3 linked regions of the Homo sapiens genome follow. The protein of the gene in region 2 purifies or fractionates together with the protein of the main gene of each other region. This does not show direct contact. Each region holds a gene or a part of one and is shown on either strand. Other genes may lie near its edges.

Region 1 (3,500 bases), on a different chromosome or scaffold from region 2:
CCAGTGTATTCCATTAACAAAAGAATGGCTGAACATCAAAAAAACTAAAGTAATCTGCATTTAATGGCAGAAAACCATGAGATCGTCTTCATCTTAATAGATGCAGAACGATTGTTTATGTGTTCAACATCTATTTGTGTGTGGTTTTTTTTTCAGCCTCAGAAAAATAGTAATAGATAGAATCGGTAAAGTTTTTTTGTTTGTTTTGAGACGGAGTCTCACTCTGTTGCCCAGCCTGGAATGCAGTGGTGCGATCTCAGCTCACTGCATCCTCCATCTCCTGGAGTCAAGAGATTCTCTTGCCTCAGCCTCCCAAGTAGCTGGGACCACAAGCGCACGCCACCAGGCCCAGCTAATTTTTGTATTTTTAATAGAGATGGGGTTTCACCATGTTGGCCAGGCTGGTCTCGAACTCCTGACCTCATGTGATCCACCCGCCTCAGTCTCCCAAAGTGCTGGGATTACAGGGGTGAGACACCACGCCTGGCCATAAGTTATTGGCTTGATAAATGCCATTAATCTACAGCAAAAACCTTACTAAAAGAAGAAAATGTAGACATTCACCGCAAAATCAGGAACAAGGCAAGGATGCCCACTGTTACAATGCCAGCACAATTCTAGATATCCAGATCACACAATTTACAAAAGAAATGTGAGATATAAACACTGGAAGGAAAAAGACACACTCTTATTTAAAAAGATGATATCGTCATCTACAAAAAACCAATGAAACCAACAGAAACTAATAAAACTACTCAGAGGAGTAACAAGTTATAAGAGCAACCTACAAAAATCAGATGTTATCCTCATTAACAATAACCAAATAGAAACCAATATGGACTATAAGATGTTACAATAGCAACTAAAACCATTAAGTAGCTAATAATTAGCCTCCCACAAAGACACATCAGACCCACAAAGGAAAAATTTTAGTTCTATCAAAGAAACTAAAAAGAGGTGTGATCAAATGGGGGAGATTTAGCATCACCATGGACTGGACAACTTAATGTTATAAATATGCTGATTTTTCATGGAACAATTTAAATTCAGTACAATTCGAATCAAAATTAAAGTATGATTTTTTCCAGAAATTCAACAAAATAATTCTGAAGTTTTAGCTGAGTATATTTGAAAAGGAATAATAAAGTGAGAGGGGAGAGGGAGCTCTCTCTCATTCTCTCTCTCTTCCTCTCACTGGCTCTCTCTCTTTCTCTCCACCAGATAGTAAGACCCATTGGTAAGCCACAGTAACAAAAGCAGAAAAAATGCAAATACACCAATGAAATAAAATAGCTCAGAAACTGGTCCACTTGGATATATACAAACTTGGTGTAGAATTGGCTTCACATATGGCAGAAAAAATATACTTTTTTTATTGTAAGGTAAATTGCCTCACTGTAAAGGGGATAAAATGCTAAAGCCAAATCTATATCTGACTTTCTAGGTAGAGCACATATAAATAGATGAGGAAGGGGATCTTCAAATCTTATTTTAGGAAATAATTATGATTTGGGTGTGAAGAAGGGCATCTTTGAAATATCTCAAAACTACAAACCAACAAGGTGAGGCTTGTGGATTTGACCTTATCAATATCAAGGATTTTTGATCAACAGAGACTACCGTTGTCAGATTTTTGACTGAGAAGAGGTTTTACTAAAGTTTAAAATCAGCAATAGTTTGATACCTAGATAGAAGGAACTTCTGTCCTTGAATCAAAATCATGCAGAAACAAGGTGTGAAACTCAATTTAAAAAGTAGTCAAATGTCACAAAATAAGAAAGGGAAGCCCAAACGGCTAGCAAATATGTTGAAATGATCAAACTCACCAGCTGTCAGAGAAATGAAAATTAAAAATAAAACGAACTATCTATTGCATTACAACCATCATTCGGACAAAAAGTATGAAAGTCAAAAATACTTCTAACTGAAGTTGTGGGGAAATTAGAACACTTGCAGAGTGTCATTCCAGACAGCAGCTTGGTGATCCTGGGTGCATGTGGGGTCTGTCTCTGGTGGCCCTGGGTGCATGTGGAGGTCTGTTTCTGGTGGCCTCTGATGAATGCGGGGTCTGTCTCTGATGGTCCTAGGTGAATGTGGGTGTTGTCTCTTTCTCTGGTGGTCCTGGGTGGATGTGGGGTGTGTCTCTGATGGTCCTGAGTGAATGTGGGTGTCTGTCACTTTCTCTAGTGGCCCTGGGTGGAATATAGTAGCCCTGTCTCTATTGGTCTTGCATGAAATGTAGTGAGCTTATGTCCACTAGTCCTGGGTGCAGTGTGTTTAGCCTCTACATACTCATCAACTGCTTTATTATAAGTCCAGGAGGGACGCTGTCCAGCACGTAAGTAAGGAACACAGGTGAAGGTATCAGTCGTGTGGCTGCATGTGGTAGAGGAAAAGAGAGCACAACCTCTGTCCATCACTATGGTGACAGAGAAGTAAAAGGTGGATGTATTCCACGGAACACTCCTCAACTGTTAGGACCCCTGAGCTAGACATGTATACAACAATACCGATAAACCTCTAAAACAAAATGCTGAGCAGAAAACCCAAGTAGCAGGATTTCTAATGCTCACTAAAACCTCTATGAACCCAGAAACCGGAAACACAAACCAGCACAATCTGTTCTGCATGAGCACATGTGTCTTGGAGGACTGGAGGACGCATTGCCAAGCACCTAGGCATGGGTGTCTATGAGGGGAAGAGAAAGGCAGTAGGCACAGGAGGTTTGAAGAAAACTGATCATTTAAAATATGAAAGATCATAAAATCAGAGCTGTGCCCTGTAGGAATCTTGAAAATGGTCTGCCATGAACTTAGGAATCTAATTAGCTCAAAGGTCAGAGTCATGATCAAGTAAGATAAAAGGGGTCAGTACCCACGGCTCATTACCCTGCTCTTACCAAACACTGTGCTCTCTCTGATAAAAGCCACGTCTCCAGCCCCGTCTCTCAGACACCTGTGAAAAGAGAAACCATCAGGGGTAAGCACAGGCAGCCCTCCCCAGCCCCTCCCTGTGGAACAGTAGCCCTGGCACTCAGCATCTATGGGTTTCTACTCCCTGCAGGGCAGGGCTCTGAAGCTTTGGGGCATCCCAGCTGGGAAGGTAGGGGCCCCCTCCAGGTAGATACTGAAGAATGACTCAGGTGCTAGCCAGAGGCCCCCATCTTCTGCTTTGAGGGCTAAGAGGACAAAACTTTTTTCTATATAAAGGAGAGTTTTGAAGCCTCTACCCAAGAGGGTAAAGCCTTAGCATCACTGTTCATGTGGCTGTTTTCCTCAGGACTGAGTGTGCAGGTGTGCCCTGGCCAGTGGGGAAGTGTGGAGGCCTCCCTCTGCAAAAATACGCTAGTGCCAGCAGACAGAATGGGAAAAGGGGGAGCTCAGCCTCCGCGTGGGGGCAGAGAGGATGGGGGCGAATCAGGCATTGCTCACTGTCCTTCAGCCACGGGGAGAGGCCCAGGTGGGCAGAAGGACATCAGCCTGGACACTGCAGCGGTCCTG
Region 2 (5,602 bases):
AATGGACTGCCTACAGAAGCCGCACTTGTGGAGAGACACCACTTCTACCAGGCACAAGGTGCTGAAGTAAGCAGTGAGGCAAAGTAATACCCCAAATTCTCTCTAGCCCCACTAATCTTCTGCTGGGGCCTGTCATTGGCAAACAGGAAGCCCAGGAGATGCAGTCCACTAGGGTCAGCATTCTGGGGCACAAAGCAGGGCAGAGATGGGGAGAATGAGAAGGAAATCAGGAAGAGGTGAAAGGAATACCAGATGATCTGAAAGAGTTAAAGTCTCTTACTTTCCTGAGTAGGAAGAACTTAAATATGGGAGAGCGTCATTGTAAAGGGCATATCAGAAGCCTTCAAAATCTATCAAAATAGTTTTAAAATTAAGGTTAATTTATAATTTTCACATTACTTGTAGACTCCACTTAAATTCCATAAAATATGATTTATTACTGGATTTTGAAGCATCTATGTGAGCTAAATTTAAAACTCTTTGGAAGACGTTGGACAATTAGAAGCAAAACATCGGCCGGGTACAGTGGCTCACACCTGTAATCCCAGCACTTTGGGAGGCCGAGGCAGGCAGATCACCTGAGGTCAAGAGATCGAGACCATCCTGGCCAACCTGGTGAAACCCCGTCTCTACTAAAAATACAAAAATTAGCTGGGCATGGTGGCATCCACCTGTAATCTCAGCTACTCAGGAGGCTGAGGCAGGGGAATCACTTGAACCCAGGAGGCAGAGGTTGCGATGAGCCGAGATCGTGCCACTGCACTCCAGCCTGGGCAACAAGAGTGAAACTGTCTAAAAAAAAAAGAAGCAGCAAAACGTCTCCCCAGACAACGTGCAAGATAATGATGATGAGACTGGGCAAAAGCTTGCTTTGGAAATAGAATTGGATGTTATTACTGTTTTTGTGATAAAGCTATGATTGGCAATTAACAGAAAACCTGAGCTGAACTGCAGAGAAAAATAAATTATCAAAGGTAGGAGGATTATGTATAGCATCTGGGAAACATTTCTAAATAACTTTGAAGCACATCAAAGCCCAAGGACTACAGACTACATTATAAACATACATTAATTCATACCTTCTTCAGAAGTCCCTAGAACACCCTCTGATTTCCTTCTTTCTGGTGTAATGCTATCTTCCCTTTTTCTTTTCTCTTCACCAACTTTTTGATCTTTGATATTTGTCTCCCTGTAACAACAATTATTTGGGGAATCAAAACGTATACACAACAGCCAAGAAAACAGGACTGTACTCAAAACAAAAAACAAACAACAACAACAACAACAACAAAACCATATAATAGCTAGCACTAACAAGAGTGTTCTCTATGCACCAGGCATTGGTTTAAGTGCTATAATTTAACTCATTTAATTCCCATAACTATATAAGGTAGTTACCACTGCCATCCCCATTAAGCAATGAGGAAACCGAGGCACAGAGAAGTTAAATTACACACCTAATAATTCCTAGAGCTAGACTCTGACCTTAGACTCAGTCTGCCTTAGACTCTGCTTTCAACCACTATGCTATACTGCTCCAAAGGAAAAAAAAGGCATTTTACTTAAGTTTTGATTGGTGTCCCTTTCAAAACCATCATTTATTTTATCATCTTATCTTCATTTCCCGAAACTCTCTCCTAAGTGAAATATGTAAATAATTTAAGTACCTCAAAATTTAAGACCATGTTTGTCAATCTATTAAGCAGAAACCATCCCCCCGACCCAACTGGAAACTCCTTATAGGCGGCAGAGCCATCTTATCCCTCTTTGTGGTACCTCTAGCCCCTAGCACAGTGCTTTGGACATTGTCAGTGCTCGGTGGATGCTGGTTGAACCAAAATAACATTGTTTAGGGATTCTTCTGTTTTCATTTGGTGGATAGTCAAAACAAAATACGTAAAATGAGAGAGAAAATAAAGCCAGCTAGAGTGAAGAGAGATTTTTTCCCCTCTTAATATTTTCCCACTAATAGAATCACAGGTTCAAGAGTTGGAGGAGGCCTTTGGGTTATATTCCGCCCCCGTTCAAATGCCCAGGACAGGGAATCATCCAGCCACTGCCTGAGCAGCAGTAACCATTACTAAAATAAGTGTAAAGGCAGGCAGCTATTTCCCTTTATCAGATAGCTGTGGCTATTAGGTTTGTGCTTTATTGAATAAAAATCTGTTACTCTGCAATTTCTAGTCACTAATTAGTCTTCTAGGGCAGACAAGTAAGCTGACTCTCTTCACTTTGCAATATTTCAGGTATTTGAGGGCAGCTATCAAATTCTCCATTCCATCTGCCTTTCTCAGGCTGAGCCTCTCAGCTCCTTCAGCTGTTCTCATATGACATGGTTTCCAGACCTCTGACTGTTCTGTAGCCACACTCTTGTGTTTGTTAATATCCCTTTTAAAATGTGATACCCAGAATGGAGCCCCACATGTGTCCTAGGACTCCTCTGAACAGCACATTACCGTCATCTGGACAGTACATTTTTATATATCCAGCATCAATGCTGCATTGACCTTTTCAGCACTTCATCAAACAGGCCTCACAGAGTCATTGCCCATGCCTTCCTCAGGAAGAATTTCTTGACTTCTCATCATGTCTCAAGATGCATGGCTCATTACTGGGCATACAAAAATAAGACATACTTCTTGCCCTCAGTAAAATTATAGTGAGCAGAAGCTTCTGATGAAAACTTCTCCAGTTAGACCAGGTCTCACACATTCTGTAATTTTGGATCTTTGACCTTTATCTTTTACAGAATCTAACATTTCCACCTGTCAAGATGATTTTGAATCCTCAGTCTATCACTCATCACATCAGCATTCATTCCTAGATTTGTGTTATCTAAAAATTTGATAAGCATACCTTTTCTGATTTAATTCACATGACTGATGAAAATGTCAAAGGTAGCAGGGCCAAGATACAGCAAACTTAGAAGCCTCTGTCTATAATGATATGAATCTGCTAATCAATATCTTGAGTACTGTGGGTGGTCAGAGGAAGAGGGGCAAATATGAGTGCAGACAGGTGGAGTCAGGGCTGGCTTATCTAAATCAATGTAATGCCATCATCAGGCATTCATTCTCCAAGAAGTCTAAAACCTAGCCCCACTTCCTGAAAAAGAAGAAAAGGATTCCCCTTTGGGGAACAATAACCTTTCAGAGCCCTTGGGAAGGTCTTGTAGCTCCACGCTCTCCTCAGGTGGCTGCAGCCATCTTTCCAGGTCCTCATCCAGAGTAGAGTGAGCTCTGTTTAAGGACAAGTGAAGAGAATGGAGACAACAGTCATTTCCCATCCCCCTTGACAAAGATGCATAACACTTTAGAGTAGAAAGGGACCTTAAAACCTGTGCTTTCACTATATGTATGAAAAAACAAGAGCTCAGTGAGATTGTGTCTGGAGTCATAGAGGTCACTTAGATCTGACTGAAATATGCACTGGTCGGGTGTGGTGGCTCACATCTGTAATCCCAGCACTTTGGGAGGCCAAGGTGGGTGGATCACCTGAGGTTAGGAGTTTGAGACCACCCTGGCCAACACAGTCCAACCCCATCTCTACTACAAATACAAAAATCAGCCGGCGTGGTCGCGTGCGCCTGTAATCCCAGCCACCCGGGAGGCTGAGGCAGGAGAATGGCTTGAGCCTAGGAGGCGGCAGCTGCAGTGAGCCGAGATCACGCGACTGCACTCTAGCCTGGGTGACAGAGCAAGACTCTGTCTCAAAAAAAAAGAAGAAAGAAAGAAAGAAGAAATATGCACCAAAATAGTCCTTTAATCCCTTGACAAAAAGCCTTAGCACCTATTAAGATCACTGCTTCCCCAAGTCTGATGGTAGACTCTGTCTCAATTCTAGGTCACTGAGTTAGTTTTCTACCTGAGGCTAGAACTATACATGCTTTCCTACATGTTTTTCCAAGAAAAGGCTAGAAGATGCAGGGTAGAGTATTTTAAGAATGCCTGAAAGTCCTGCTCATCTGAAAAAATGTCTTCCACTCTGGCTTGGTGCCTAGATTGATCATTCACAGCACTGAGATGACTGAGCATCTGTGGGGCATCTATCTGTGGCCAGCACTGCTGGCCCTTTTGGAAGAGGAAGAGACAACAATAATAATAGCTAACTTTTGATCACGTAAAAAGAGCTTAATTTTCTTTTTTTTTTTTGAGACAGTCTCGCTCTGTCGCCCAGGCTGGAGTGCAGCGGCACCATCTCAGCTCACTGCAACCTCTGCCTCCCAGGTTCAAGCGATTCTCCTGCCTCAACCTCCTGAGTAGCTGGGACTACAGGTGTGTGCCACCATGCCTGGCTAATTTTTTTATATATAATTTTAGTAGAGACGGGGTTTTGCCATGTTGGCCAGGCTGGTTTCAAACTCCTGGCTTCAAGTGATCCACCCACCTTGGCCTCCCAAAGTACTGGGATTATAGGTGTGAGCCACTGCGCCTGGCCCCTGTAATGTCAGCACTTTGGGAGTCCCAGTTGGGTGGATCACTTGAGCTCAGGAGTTCAAGGCCAGTCTGGGCAACATGGCAAAACCCCATCTCTACAAAAAATACAAAAATTATCCAGGCATGTTGGCATGAGCCTATAGACCCAACTACTTGGCAGCTGAGGCAGGAGGATCACTTGAGCCCAGGAGATCAAGGCTGCAGTGAGTGGTGTTCATGCCCTATTGCACTCCAGCCTGGGCAACAATGTGAGACTCTGTCTCAAAAAAAAAAAAAATTGCACTAAAATATTACTTATTTTGACTACTGAGTTTTTTTGGTGCTCCCTTCAATTTTGTATCCAAGGAGTCTATCTCCTGAGCTCACCTTAACCTAGTCCTGGCCCCGAATAATGATAGTTCAAGAGAAGTCAAGAGGCAGAGGAGGTGAGCTGAAGTAGTTTACCCTACAACACAGGCAAAAAGAGCTCCAAATCAGGAACAGAGTCAGGTTTCTTGAGGCAACCTTGTACTTTTAGACTGAATTGTCTGGAAGACTGCCCCCATTTTCTCTTCTAAGGCCTTTAACTAAAATGTTTTGAAAGAGACTGAAACTTGTGTTTGCCTAACAAAATGAAGTAAAAATAAACAAACAAAACCCTAAAAACAACTCAAGAGAAAATAACAACAAATAACCCTATCAAAAAATAGGCAAAGAGCCAGGCATGGTGGCTTGCACCTGTAGTCCCAGCTACTTGGGAGGATGGGGCAGGAAGATCACTTGAGCCTAGGACTTCAAGTTCAGCCTGGGCAACATAAAGCCCATCTCTAATTTATATATATATATATATATATATATATATATATATATAGAGAGAGAGAGAGAGAGAGAGAGAGAGAGAGAGAGAGAGAGAGCGCAAGATCATACATATGTATGTATATAGAGAGAGATCATACATATATATGTATACATATATATAGATCATACATATATGTATACATATATATGTATACACACACACAGACACACACACACACACACACACACAGACGGCAAAGAACTCAGACATTTCTCCAAAGAAGATATACAAATGGCCAACAAGCACATGAAAAGATGTTCAACATCATTAATCATTAGGGAAGGGAAAACTAAAACTACAGTGAGGCACCACCTCACACCCATTAGGA
Region 3 (2,314 bases), on a different chromosome or scaffold from region 2:
GATTTTACCTTTCGTTCTTAAAACGCCCTCCAATAAACATCAATTATTTTCTTCTTCTTCTTCTTTTTTTATTTCAATAATTTATTTTTCTTTTTTTTAATTATACATTAAGTTTTAGGGTACATGTGCACAATGTGCAGGTTTGTTACATGTATATACATGTGCCATGTTGGTGTGCTGCACCCATTAAGTTGTCATTTATATTAGGTATATCTCCCAATGCTATCCCTCCCCCCTCCCCCCACCCCACAACAGGCCCTGGTGTGTGGTGTTCCCCTTCCTGTTTCCAGGTGTTCTCATGGTTCAATTCCCACCTATGAGTGAGAACATGCAGTGTTTGGTTTGTTGTCCTTGTGATAGTTTGCTGATAATGATGGTTTCCAGCTTCATCCGTGTCCCTACAAAGGACACGAACTCATCATTTTTTATGGCTGCATAGTATTCCATGGTGTATATGGGCCACGTTTTCTTAATCCAGTCTATCATTATTGGACATTTGGGTTGGTTCCAAGTCTTTGCTATTGTGAATAGTGTTCCAATAAGCATACGTGTGCATGTGTCTTTATAGCAGCATGATTTATAATCCTTTGAGTATACACCCACTAATGGGATGGCTGGGTTAAATGGTATTTCTAGTTCTAGATCCTTGAGGAACTGCCACACTGACTTCCACAGTGGTTGAACTTGTTTACGGTCCCACCAACAGTGTAAAAGTGTTCCTATTTCTCCATATCCTTTCCAGCACCTCTTGTTTCCTGACTTTTTAATGATCGCCATTCTAACTGGTGTGAGATGGTATCTCATTGTGGTTTTGATTTGCATTTCTCTGATGGCCAGTGATGATGAGCATTTTTTCATGTGTCTGTTGGCTGCATAAATGTCTTCTTTTGAGAAGTGTCTGTTCACATCCTTTGCCCACTTGTTGATGGGGTTGTTTGATTTTTTCTTGTAAATTTGTTTGAGTTCTTTGTAGATTCTGGATATTAGCCCTTTGTCAGATGAGTAGATTGCAAAAATTTTCTCCCATTCTGTAGGTTGCCTGTTCACTCTGATGGTAGTTTCTTTTGCTGTGCAGAAGCTCTTTAGTTTAATTAGATCCCATTTGTCAATTTTGGCTTTCAATTATTTTCTTCTTAAAGTATAGAACTAAAGAAAATGACCTTTTGAGTTTTGGAAATGATTTTTTTTTTTTTTTTGAGATGGAGTCTTGCTCTGTCCCCCAGGCTGGAGTGCAGTGGCATGATCTCAGCTCACTGCAAGCTCCGCCTCCTGGGTTCATGCCATTCTCCTTCCTCAGCCTCCCGAGTAGCTGGGACTACAGGTGCCTGCCACGACGCTTGGCTAATTTTTTGTATTTTTAGTAGAGACGGGCTTTCACTGTGTTAGCCAGGATGGTCTCGATCTCCTGACCTCGTGATCCACCCACCTCGGCTTCCCAAAGTGCTGGGATTGCAGGCGTGAGCCACTGCGCCCAGCCGCATCTCTCTCATTTTTTAAAACAGCTAAAATGGATGCATTCACTACCTATGACCCTAGGGCATGGCTCAGAGTTAGTTCAAATTCCCATTAAAAAAAAAAAGTAACTTTAGCTTTAATTTAATTTTCTAAATCTGATGCCATTCCTAGTACATGAATATTCTGGATTTCCTCGTAGAGAAATTACAATAAGCATTCAAGAAATATGTGTAAAAAGCTTTCTAATTTTATATTCATTTCACTATTGTGTATGCAACATCATGATCCAGGCATTTGTTTCTATAAATCTACTCTCTAACTTAAGGTTGGGTGCGGTGGCTCACACCTTTAATCCCAGCACTTTGGGAGGCTGAGGCTGGCACATCACTTGAAGCCAGGAGTTTGAGACCAGCTTGGCCAACATGATGAAACCCTGTCTCTACTACAAATACAAAAGAAAATTTAGCTGGGCATGGTGGAGTGTGCCTGTAATCCCAGCTACTCGAGAGGCTGAGGCACGAGAATTGCTTGAACCCAGGAGGCAGAGGTTGCAATGAGCGACGATCACACTATTACACTCCAGCCCGGGTGACAGAACAAGATTGTCTAAAAAAAACCCAAACAAACAAACAAACAAACAAAAAACTACTCTCTAACTTAAAATGAAAAAACAGAACCCTGTCCTCATAAATTTCAGTGCACATGGAACACTGTTATAGGCTGGGGAGGAGGAGGACACAGCTGGGTGGCTGCTGGGTCTCCTGAGTCACATACCAAAAACTTCTGGGCCATCTTTGATGTTCCACCCAGACTGCTTTGAAGCTGGGCTTATCATAACACCTTATGTTTTCAATTGAGC

Evidence for each region.
Region 1: the proteins of TEX14 (region 2) and LTF purify together in Homo sapiens (affinity purification with mass spectrometry; one large-scale study listed by BioGRID and IntAct). This does not show direct contact.
Region 3: the proteins of TEX14 (region 2) and SERPINB5 purify together in Homo sapiens (affinity purification with mass spectrometry; one large-scale study listed by BioGRID and IntAct). This does not show direct contact.

Annotation. Positions count from the first base shown.
Region 1 is NC_000003.12:46,451,406-46,454,905, forward strand, and holds part of LTF (lactotransferrin isoform 1 preproprotein), read right to left. Parts: intron 2,956-3,500; coding exon 2,900-2,955; intron 1-2,899. UniProt on the Homo sapiens protein: Transferrins are iron binding transport proteins which can bind two Fe(3+) ions in association with the binding of an anion, usually bicarbonate. Lactoferricin binds to the bacterial surface and is crucial for the bactericidal functions.
Region 2 is NC_000017.11:58,558,374-58,563,975, forward strand, and holds part of TEX14 (inactive serine/threonine-protein kinase TEX14), read right to left. Parts: intron 3,240-5,602; coding exon 3,147-3,239; intron 1,190-3,146; coding exon 1,080-1,189; intron 1-1,079.
Region 3 is NC_000018.10:63,500,958-63,503,271, forward strand, and holds part of SERPINB5 (serpin B5), read left to right. Parts: intron 1-2,314. UniProt on the Homo sapiens protein: Tumor suppressor. It blocks the growth, invasion, and metastatic properties of mammary tumors.